3 linked regions of the Homo sapiens genome follow. The protein of the gene in region 2 purifies or fractionates together with the protein of the main gene of each other region. This does not show direct contact. Each region holds a gene or a part of one and is shown on either strand. Other genes may lie near its edges. The genes, in order: PC, TSHR and MLF1.

Region 1 (3,653 bases), on a different chromosome or scaffold from region 2:
ACTCCGTCTCAAAAAAAAAAAAGAAAAAAAAAAACTTAGCCAGGTGTGGTGGCACATGCCTGTAAAATGTGCAGGGGAAGAAGGGCAGGTCCCTTTTTCCCCGTTGTTACCGTGACTGGCAAAGGTTGAGCGTCACCCTCTGGAAACCCGTGTCAAGTGACTTTACAACCAGCTGGCAGAACCACCTCACACCACAGCTGCCTGCTCTCCATGCTGACTCAAGGGGTCTTCTCAGAGACGGCCCAGCCCCAGGGATTCTTCCTGCCCAGCTTCCCAAGCTGACCATACCCTTCCAGAACCAGGGCCTTCTGCTGAGGCTGGCCAGCTGCCAAATGGGGCCAGCAGGGAGCCAGATGTCACTTTCCTGTAAAAATCAGGAGCAACTGGAAACAGACAAGACTGCTTAAACGGATATTATCCACAAATCAGAGCGCAGCCTTTTTTTATTGATTGAGCTTAAGACCTGACATGCCAAACTGCTGGCATCCACAGCTGCTCCTGGTGAAGACCCCCATGCATCCCGCCAGCCTGGATTCAGGCACAGGACTTACCCTTAGTGTTTGGTCAGCTCTCCAGAAGGCAGACACTATCTAAAGCAAAAGAAAAAACAGCATTACCCTCATTGCTCCAGGAACTTCCCAGAGAAAACAGGAGTGGCAAGAACACCGATTTTAGAACCCAGAGAACTTTTTCAGTCTTGTTACCCGGGCTGGAGTGCAATGGCGCAATCCCGGCTCACTGCAACCTCTGCTTCCCGGATTCAAGCGATTCTCCTGCCTCAGCCTCCTGAGGTAGTTGGGATTACAGGCATGTGCCACCACGCCCAGCTAATTTGGTATTTTTAGTAGAGATGGGGGTTTCTCCATGTTGGTCAGGCTGGTCTCGAACTCCCGACCTCAGGTGATCCACCCACCTCGGCCTCCCAAAGTGCTGGGATTACAGGTGTGAGCCACCGCACCCGGCCAAGAACTGTTTCTTTGCTTCCACTGAGGGCACCAGGAGGGTACAGAGCTGGAAGCGCCAGCTGTGCTGTCCCACTGCCTGGACTGCACCTCTTGTTACTCTGACAGCCGCTCTGTAATCACTCAAAGTCTGTTTCCTCATCTGTAAAATGGGAATAATAACAATGCCCATCTCACAGCGTACTAGGGAATACCCAATGAGGCAGCACACGCACAGCAGTGGCACCATGCCTGGCACAGAGGACACACTGGGACGTTAACCGACAGGCTAGGTGGGAAGCGCTTAAGTAAAACCCTTTTCTGCCACCCACTACACATGAACAAGAAGTTCTAGAAACAGTTCGTTTTATCTGAAGTGCTTTCTCTTCCTGCCCACTCCGTCCAGCCTCAGGCCCGCTTTCTCTGCATCTCCGCAGAGCTGTCTCTAATCCTTCAGGAGCTCCCTCTGAATACTGGGAGTCTGGTTCTTCTCTCACTCCACAACTTGAAACTAATAAGGAGCTGTCTTACGTGACCTGAGATGTGTACTCTATTTCCTGGCTATTTCCTCAAATCCTTTCCTGCAGAGACCCCTCTCTGCCATAAGTAAGAGCCCACCTCGTGTTTATGCCCATGGGAGCCCACAGTTGGTATTGTGTAATCACTTTTCGGAGTTTTATTGACTGCTTATTTCCGAAAAAGCCACACCTACCCTAGCCACTAGTCAATGAACAGCAAAATGGAAAAACAGGCCAGCAAGCTCAAATCCCTGTTCAGAGAAAACCAGCTGCCTTGACAGATAACGTCAAGGCTGAAATTCAATGTCTGGGGCACTCAAGTCAATAAAATATTTATTGAGCACATGCCTTGCACAAGGAACTGTATGTACACTCAGGCCCTGCCCACAAAGTGCCAAAAAGCAAGTTGTTAGGGGCTGGTTAAAAGAAGCAAAAATGGGATGGCACGTGAGAGGGACTCCAGCAGTGAGCCACCTAGCCTGCCTGGCTGTGTTACTCTGGGCGTTATTTCACCTCTCTGAGTTTCACCTATGAGAGTCCGTCATTTGTAAGAGATGGATCTAATAGGACCTTCGTAATAGGATTGTTGTGATAATCACATTATGTGTATGTAAGGGGCTTAGCAAGGCCGTCACCACCACACAGTAGTTGACTTTTATTATTAATAACAATAAATCATTACTTATCATCATCGTTATGAAAAGAGAGCCCAGTCCAACTGAATAGATTTGGCAAGCCTTAATAAAGTCCTGTGTCTCGAAGAATAATTTAATTTTGACAGGACAAGATAAGAAGCAAGGCCCTGCAGAAAACAAAGTCAACAAGAACAAGAGCAGAGGGGGGACCGTGAGAAGTGAGTTTGGGGTAACAGTGACTAATCTCACTATGGGGGCTGACACAGAAGAGGGTACCTGCGGAGGCAAATGGAAGAAAGAGCCCAACAGGTGGAATCATATTAGAGAGTCTTGAACGCCAAGATGAAGCAAGCTTTTCATTCGGTAAGTAAGAGGAAATGGTTTATTCTTTTGGCCATTTCCCATCTTCCACCGTCAGGCCCGACTCCTTTGGCAAAGTGTCCACAGGTGAGACTAGAAGGCAGCTAAGAGAAAGAGAGGAAGGCACGGTCAGTCAGGCCCAGGTGAGGTTTCAGAGTGAGCAGGCAAAATGCCCTGCTGCTGTGAAGGAGGCCTCTGGGTGAGAAACCTGCCCCAAAGCAGGAACTTTCAGGATACAAGAAACGGGGCCCATTCAGATGGGGGCAGGACGATATTGGGAGGCAGCCAAAGAGAAGGCCATGCTCATCCTCAATGAAAATGTTGACCAGAGGCCGGGTGCAGTGGCTCACGCCTGTAATCCCAGCACTTTGGGAGGCCAAGGCAGGTGATCACCTGAAGTCAGGAGTTCGAGACCAGCCTGCCCAACATAGTGAAACCCCATCTCTACTAAAGATACAAAAATTAGCCAGGCAAAGGGTTGGTGCCTGTAATCCCAGCTACTCAGGAGGCTGAGGCAGGAGAATCACTTGAATCCGGGAGGCAGAGGCTGCAGTGAGCCAAGATGGTGCCACTGTACTGCAGCCTGGGCAACAAAACAAGACTCCGTCTCCAAAAAAAAAAAAACACAGAAAACGTTGACCTGAACGAGGCCTCCAGCCCATGCAGAAGGTGCCAGTGAGAAATGTGGATTGCCAGATTTACTGCCATACTGACCTTGGTGCTGGCCATCCCTGCCACCTCCAAAAGTAACTCCTTTCCGTATTCCCCATCTTGCACCCTTCTCTCCTCACTGGTTCCCAGTTTGACCCCTTTTCAACTAATTCACCCAAAACACTCATTAGGCACCTACTTGTTCCTGGCACTATTAGGTACTGAGAGGACAGAGGGAAGAGGGACACAGGGAACTGTGGCTTGGGATAAGAGTAGTGAATCTGAGGTCCTGCCCTGCCACTGGTCCCAGAGCCCCCATGAGTGGTGGTGGGAGGACAGGTACCTATCACAGTGCCTGGGGCACTGGAAGTGAGACCGGGTGAAAGCAAGGAGCAGGACAAAAAAGGGAAAAGGGCCTGGGGGACCTACTGTGGGCTACCAGGGACAACCTTCTAGGGGAGATCTTGGAGGTGAGGACTGGCACAGGGAACCGAGTCAGCCAGGCTGCAGCGGGCTTCAGTAGAAAGACAGAAGGCGTTATGACACAT
Region 2 (3,653 bases):
AAGAGGTTGAGAAATCCTAAAACAAAAAAGACATTCACATTCTGGCACTTTAGGGTCTACCAACATAATGGCCAGCTCCCTAAACAATTACCCTAAAGCAAAGTCTGCCAACAGAAAAGCACCCTCTTAAATACGAATGTGTGCAACCAGAGATCTCCAGTCAAAGAATGCTCCTAACATGGAAGATCAAAACCAAGATACACAAATGGCGGGGAAATGAGCCTGGAGAAATCAAAGAAATCACAGAAAAGAGAAAGGAACCTTTAACAAAGCAATAATTAAGGACCTGAGATAAATCTGAGAACACATTTCATCCCTATCACTATAACAATCATGATAATAATAATAAAAATAATAGCTAATATTTATTGAGAACACACTAAGAGCTACTGTTCAACAAACTCAAGACAAGGAAACTGCAGCACACAAAGTTTCAGTGACTGATAGTAAGCACAGAAGCCAGGGTTTAAGTCCAGATAGTGTGAATTTAAAACCCATGTTCCTAAACAAAGGGGTATGCTTTCTCAAATATGCTGGTTTTATTTCATTTTATTTTTTATTCTTTTTTATTTTTTATTTTTAGAAGGAGTTTCGCTCTTGTTGCCCAGGCTGGAGTGCAATGGTGCAATCTCGGCTCACCACGACCTCCACTTCCCGGGTTCAAGCGATTTTCTCCTGCCTCAGCCTCCCGAGTAGCTAGGATTACAGGCATGTGCCACCATGCCCGGCTAATTTTGAATTTTTAGTAGATACTGGTTTCTCCATGTTGGTCAGGCTGGTCTCAAACTCCCAACCTCAGGTGATCCACCCGCCTCAGCCTCCCAAAGTGCTGCGATTACAGATGTGAGCCACCGCACCCAACCAAATACGCTGTTTTTAAAAGGAACAGAACACAAGAAAGTGCTCTTAAAAAATCTATTCAGGTATTTAACAAGTATGTGTTTAGAGTCTTCTGTTGGCTAAACACCAGTCTAGGTACCAAAAATACGGCAATAAACAGAACAGGCAGTATTTCAGCTCTCATGAAGCTAAAATTAAAAATTTAGTAGAAGAGATGGAAGATGCACTCAAGGAATTTTACCAGGCAATTTAATAAAAGTAATAGGAGAAAATTCCAAGAAAAAATGGAGATATGTCTGATGGACCAGGAGGTGCCTTTTCCTCTTATTAAGAATTCCAGAGACAAAACAGATAAAATGAGAATAAGTTATCCCATAAACAATACAAGAAAATTTCCTAGCAGTGAAGAACAAAGGTCTTCAGATTGAAGGGGCCTGTCTTCCCCCAGTGCCCATTATAATAAATGGAAAAAGATTCCTATCAAGGTACACCTTCATGAAATGTCACACCAGGGATAAAGAGAAGGTCTGAGAAGCTTCCAGAAGTAATAACAAGTCAATGACCAAAGAATAAGAATTTGAATGGGGTCATACTTACCAAAAGCATCAATGGGTGCTAGAATATGATAAAGCCTTTAAAATTCTGAAGAAAGGCGATTTGCAACCTTAAATTTTATAGCCAGCTAAAGTACCAATTGAATATAAGGGTAGAAAAAAATAAGGTCATTTTCAGACATGCAAAGACTCAGAAAATATCTCCTTCACACAGCCTAAGAAATTACTTGAAAATGTGCTCTAGGAGAGAAAATCAAGAAAAAAGATGACACAAGATTCAGAAAGAGACTCCCACTGGGGAGAGGGGAAATAGTCTCCTAAGAAGCTTGAACTTCATTCTGTAGATATTAAAGGAGGCATGGATTTCAAGCTGGAAAGCAATATAAGATCTGTGTTTTAGAAAGGACATTCTTTCCTAAGTCTTTCCTAATGTCCTTTAGAAAAAACATTCTTTCCTAAGTTCCTAAAATCAGAATAGTGGAAGATTTCTGAGACCAGTCACAAAGTTTTTGCAAAACTCAGGTGAAATGTAGTTCAGACCTAAACTAAGGTGGTAGCAATGAGAACCATGAAATTGTAGATGTGCAACAGCTGGGCTCACATCTGATTGGGGTGGGGGGTTCTTAGCACAATTTCATGTTGTTGTAAATATTCACGGCATGAACGTAGGGCAAGGGCAAGAGAGACTCCACAAGGACATCGAAGCTTCAAGCCCTGGAAAGTGGTAGATGGAAGACAAGAAATAAAGACATTCCAGTAAGCTTCAAGGCAAGAATCATTCTATTTGAGATATTTTGAGTGGAGAGGCAGTGCTAGATCCATAGAGAAGTACAGAGGAGCTCCTACCTTTCTGTCTGATAGCAACCAGACTGTCTGATTAAAACTGCAGATCACTGCAAGGGTGGTTAAATCAAAAAAGAAAAAAGGCAGTTGTTCCCCCTGCTTGACCCTGAAAGTGCAGAGATAGTGTGGGTGGACTGCACAGGAACACTTAAGGTGCAGCATGCCTAATGGATACTTAGAACGATGACAAGTGAGGATTAAGATGTCTTCAAGTATAATAGATTCTAATTTTGTCTGTAAGTGGCCTTAGAGCTCTGAGATGAGACTACAGAGGTAGTCCAGTGCTAGATCTGCAAGACCTTAAAGGGCATGGTAGGAAGCGTGGATGTTATTCATGGTACGTTGAGAAGTCACTGTAGGCCTTTAGGCAGGAAAGTGACATTACTCAATTCATATGTTATGATTACTCTGGCTACTATGTGAGGAATGGATTGAAAAAGAATAAAAGTGGACAGGAAAGATATTTCAGTAAGAGATAATGTTAGCTTGGACTAGAAAGCTTACACTGGAGATGCAAATACGTGGATTTGAGATTCCTTTGGAGTTCAGAATCATAGGTGTTTTGCAAGATTAAATGTGGATGGGACAATGGTCTTGAGGAAATCCAACATTCCTCAAGGTTACTAATTTGAGCAATCAAGTGGATGAGAGTGTCAATTACCATGTTGGGGGGAAATAGAGGAGGAGCAGGTTGAGCTAAGGGCAAAGGATGAAAAGATAAGTTTTGAAAGGCCCTATTAAGTTGGAGACGCCTGTGAGGCATCCAGGTGGAGATATCAAATAAGCAGTTGGATATACAAGTTGAGGTCTGGACTGGAGCTGTATTTGCCAACTTCATTGCTTTTGGCTTCAGCTCAGATAAACTTCAAATTGGGACAAGGAGGAAATTAACAATTATTGAGCACCTACCATATGCCAAGCACCCACATTTCCCAACATCTACTTTCTCCTTGCCTGCCCAAGCACCCTCCCAGTTCAGCCCGAGTGGGACCTAACTTAGAGGCCACCTGGGATATGTCATTACATATACTCAGACAAACTTTGGAATCTTCCCTCCCAGATTCCTAATGAGTCCATGGAGACTTACTGCACCTGGATCTGTGTTCAAAGACTCCAAAGACCTGAAAGTGAAGACTAGCTCCTGGGACACTGAAGCTGAGAACTCCAGACCCAAATGATACTTATGACTCCACCCTTGGTTCACTGTATCTTTTTGGACACAACATCCCTTATTTCTTTGTCTGAATTTTAGTATCTGCCCGCTTCATAAAAATGCTTTGAGAATTGAAACCAGCTTCTGAATCACCTGGAGAGCATCTTAAATAATGCAGATTCCCAGCCTCCACAAACAGAGATTATAATTCATTTGGTCTGGAATGTGTCTCAATCTGTATTACAGGTGATTCTGATGCTGGT
Region 3 (3,653 bases), on a different chromosome or scaffold from region 2:
ACTAATCAATTCCTTATTCCTCGTTCTAGAACTTAAGGTACACCATGATTGGAGCTCACTTTACCAAGGCAATCTTATGCTTTCCTGCAGCCCAGTGGAACTCCCTCTCCAATAGTCTGGCCTCCTTTCAGATTCTCCACTTCAGTTATTCTTCTTAGGTCACCCTTCCCCCTTCTAATTCCAATCCTCTGATGTCATCATAAAGAAGCTAGAAAGTTTTTAAAATTTTTTCTTGGCCAGGCGTGGTGCCTCATGCCTGTAATCCCCGCACTTTGGGAGGCTGAGTCAGGTGGATTGCTTGAGGTCGGGAGTTCAAGACCAGCCTGGCCAACATGGTAAAACCCCATCTCTACTAAAAATACAAAAATTAGCCGGGTGTGGTGACGTACGCCTATAATCCCAGCTACTCCGGAGGCTGAGGCAGGAGAATTGCTTGAACCCGGGAGGCAGAAGTTGCAGTGAGCCAAGATTGCACCATTGCACTCCAGACGGGGTGACAGAGCCAGACTCTGTCTCAAAAAAAAAAAAAAAAAAGAAATTTTCCTTGCAACTCCAGCTCAAAGGAGGAAGCTCAAAGGAGGAAGCTCAAAAATTCTGTCTTCTGCTCATAAGTCCAAGTAGAAAGAGCTTTTCCTCTGAATTTCATAGTATTTGTATACATAAACCTATTCCAAAAGAGCTCAGATTTATTCACACATTACCTTGGAGGTTAAAAAAAGCATAATTGTTCCAAGTGTGAGTTTAAGATTAGCAAACTGCTTAACTGGATTTGTGCTTGTATGTATAGACAGATGTTTTCATTCAGCCTTGTTTAGGCATAATTTACATTCAACGAAATTTACCAATTTTGTTGTACAGTTTGATGAATTTTAAAAAGTGCAGTCATAACCTCCACCATAATTAAGATGTAGAACATTTCTATCATTCCAAAAAGCTTCCTCGTCTCTTTGCAGATAATTACCTGCTCCTAGCCCTAGTTACCATGAATAGGCTTTCTGTCATTATAGTTTGGTCTTCTCCAGATTTCATATAATGGAATCACATAGTATGTCATCTTTTGTGTCTAGCTTCTTTCCCTTAGCATAATGCTTCTTTGATTCATCCATGTTGTTCTCTATTTCAGTTCATTCAGTTTTATTGCTAAGTTCATACATATATCAGTATCATAATCACAAAACTGTTTTTAGTTTTTGGCTATTATGAATAAAGCTACTATGAATATTTATGTACTAGTCTTTGTGTATACATAATTTGACTTAAGTAAACACCTCAGAGCAAGGACTGATGGCTTGTATTAGAAGAGTATGTAAATTTTATGAAAACTGTAACTGAGAGTTCCAGTTGCACTGCATTCTTGGTGAAATATAGGATAGTCAATGTTTAACTGTAGCCATTTGAGTGGTAGGGTCATAACATCTCATTGTAGTTTTATTTTGTATTATTTGTCATTCATGTATGTTCTTTGATAGAACCGTCTTTTCAAATACTTCCCCCATTTTTAAAAATCAGGTTATAAGAGTTCTTTATATATTCTGGACACAGACTTTTATCAGATACAGGTTTTAAATTTTTTCCCAGTCTTGGACTTGCCTTTTTCATTCTCTTAACATGAATATATTCAGCCACACAACCATGAATCTTTGTTAGGTCTTCAGTTTTTACCACATTTTGCTAATGTGTATAAGGATTTTGAGATGGGAAGATTATCCTGGATTATCCCAGTGGGCCCAATGTAATCACAAGGGTCCTTATGAGAAGGAGATAGTAGTGTCATAATCAGAAGATGCTACACTGCTGGCTTTAAAAATGGAGGAAGAGGCCAGAAGCCAAGGAACACAGCAGTATCTAGACGCTAGAAAAGACAAGGAAACAGATTCACCCCCATAAACTCCAGAAGGAATGTAGCCCTGCCAACACCTTGATTTTAGCCCAGGGAAACCCATTTTGGACTTCTGATCTCCACCATAAGATGATTTGTTGTTTTAAGTCTCTAAATATGTGGTAATTTGTTATAGAAGCAATAGGAAACTAATACAAGTTTTTTAATTTTAATTTTAAAATATACAAAAGTCTCACTCCTCTTTTAGAGTATAAGTTCTTCTAGAGTAGGAACTGTATCTTTATTCATTCATATTACCAACCTCTGTGCTTGACACACAGTATACATTATAAATGTTTATGGAGGGCTGGGCGCGGTGGCTCATGCCTGTAATCCCAGCACTTTGGGAGGCCGAGGTGGGTGGATCACGAAGTCAAGAGCTTGAGAAGAGCCTGGCCAACATGGTGAAACCCCGTTTCTACTAAAAGTACAAAAATTAGCTGGGTGTGGTGGTAGGTGCCTGTAATCCCAGCTACTCTGGAGGCTGAGGCAGGAGAATCACTTAAACCCGGGAAGTGGAGGTTGTGATGAGCCAAGATCATGCCATTGCACTCCAGCCTAGGCAATAGGGTGAGACTCCGTCTCAAAATAAAATAAAAAAAAATACAAAAATTCAAAATAAATAAATAAATAAATAATGTTTATGGAATTTGAACCATCCTATATATCAGATGGTCCCCCTACCATTTCTTGGCAAAATTACTAACTATTCTTAATTAAAGGCTCTGCTCACCTTGGTGCTTGCTACACAGAGAAAAATCTCCACTGCAACCAATGCCTGCAGTCTTGAAGTTCCTCCTTAGTGACTTTGGATTTTAGGGGAGGGGAAACTCCTATTTAAACTATACTTGGTTTTCTCTGGCCCAAGTATTTTAGTACATGGGACTTACATGTCCTGATGATAGTTCCAAGGGCTTCTTGTGCTTCAGTTTCAGCTGCTGCAGAGTAAGACCACCTGTATGTCTGAGAAACAACATCCTCAAATGAGGTTTGTTTATGCCATAGAAGCTTATGTCTTAATTGAGGCCATCCTGAATGTGGTCTCAAAATTTTGCGAATATCTATAAATATCTGTTTTTTATGATGCAGAAACACACGTATAAACTTTTTGTAGATTTGTAGTTCATTTTCCTGTCTTTAGATGAAAGCAACAAAACTGATGACTTAGAATGAGGGCAGTTTTTTTCTGCTTTTTTTTTTTTTTTTTTTTTTTTGAGACGGAGTCTCGCTCTCTTGCCCAGGCTGGAGTGCAGTGGCGCGATCTCGGCTCACTGCAAGCTCCGCCTCCTGGGTTCACGCCATTCTCCTGCCTCAGCCCCCCGAGTAGCTGGGACTACAGGCACCAGCCACCACACCCAGCTAATTTTTTGTACTTAGTAGAGACGGGGTTTCACCGTGTTAGCCAGGATGGTCTCAATCAATGTGTTATTCTGACATAACATGTATTAGTTATCTATTGCTGTTGTAACTTAGCAGCTTAAAACAACATTTGTTATGTCACAATTTCTGTTGATTAGGAATCAGGAGCAGTTTAGGTGGGTAGTTCTGACTCAGGGCCTCTCTGTAGGCTGCAATGAAGTTATCAGTTGAGGCTTTAGTCATCTCAAGTCTTGACTGGTGGAGAATCCACTTCCAAGTTCCTTCACACAGCTATTGGCTAGTCTCAAAAATCTGCTTCTAAGCTCATTCAGGTGGACCTCTCCACAGTGCTGCTTTACATCATGGTAGCTCTTTCCCCGAAGTAAGCCATCATGTGTGAGAGAACACCTAAGAC

What was found.
Region 1: the proteins of TSHR (region 2) and PC purify together in Homo sapiens (affinity purification with mass spectrometry; 2 studies listed by BioGRID and IntAct, with this or other methods). This does not show direct contact.
Region 3: the proteins of TSHR (region 2) and MLF1 purify together in Homo sapiens (affinity purification with mass spectrometry; 2 studies listed by BioGRID and IntAct, with this or other methods). This does not show direct contact.

The regions. Positions count from the first base shown.
Region 1 is NC_000011.10:66,951,879-66,955,531, forward strand, and holds part of PC (pyruvate carboxylase, mitochondrial precursor), read right to left. Parts: intron 2,559-3,653; 5' UTR 2,371-2,558; intron 591-2,370; 5' UTR 552-590; intron 1-551. UniProt on the Homo sapiens protein: Pyruvate carboxylase catalyzes a 2-step reaction, involving the ATP-dependent carboxylation of the covalently attached biotin in the first step and the transfer of the carboxyl group to pyruvate in the second.
Region 2 is NC_000014.9:81,133,573-81,137,225, forward strand, and holds part of TSHR (thyrotropin receptor isoform 1 precursor), read left to right. Parts: intron 1-3,653. UniProt on the Homo sapiens protein: Receptor for the thyroid-stimulating hormone (TSH) or thyrotropin. Also acts as a receptor for the heterodimeric glycoprotein hormone (GPHA2:GPHB5) or thyrostimulin. The activity of this receptor is mediated by G proteins which activate adenylate cyclase.
Region 3 is NC_000003.12:158,588,041-158,591,693, reverse strand, and holds part of MLF1 (myeloid leukemia factor 1), read right to left. Parts: intron 2,843-3,653; coding exon of another isoform or gene 2,770-2,842; intron 1-2,769. UniProt on the Homo sapiens protein: Involved in lineage commitment of primary hemopoietic progenitors by restricting erythroid formation and enhancing myeloid formation.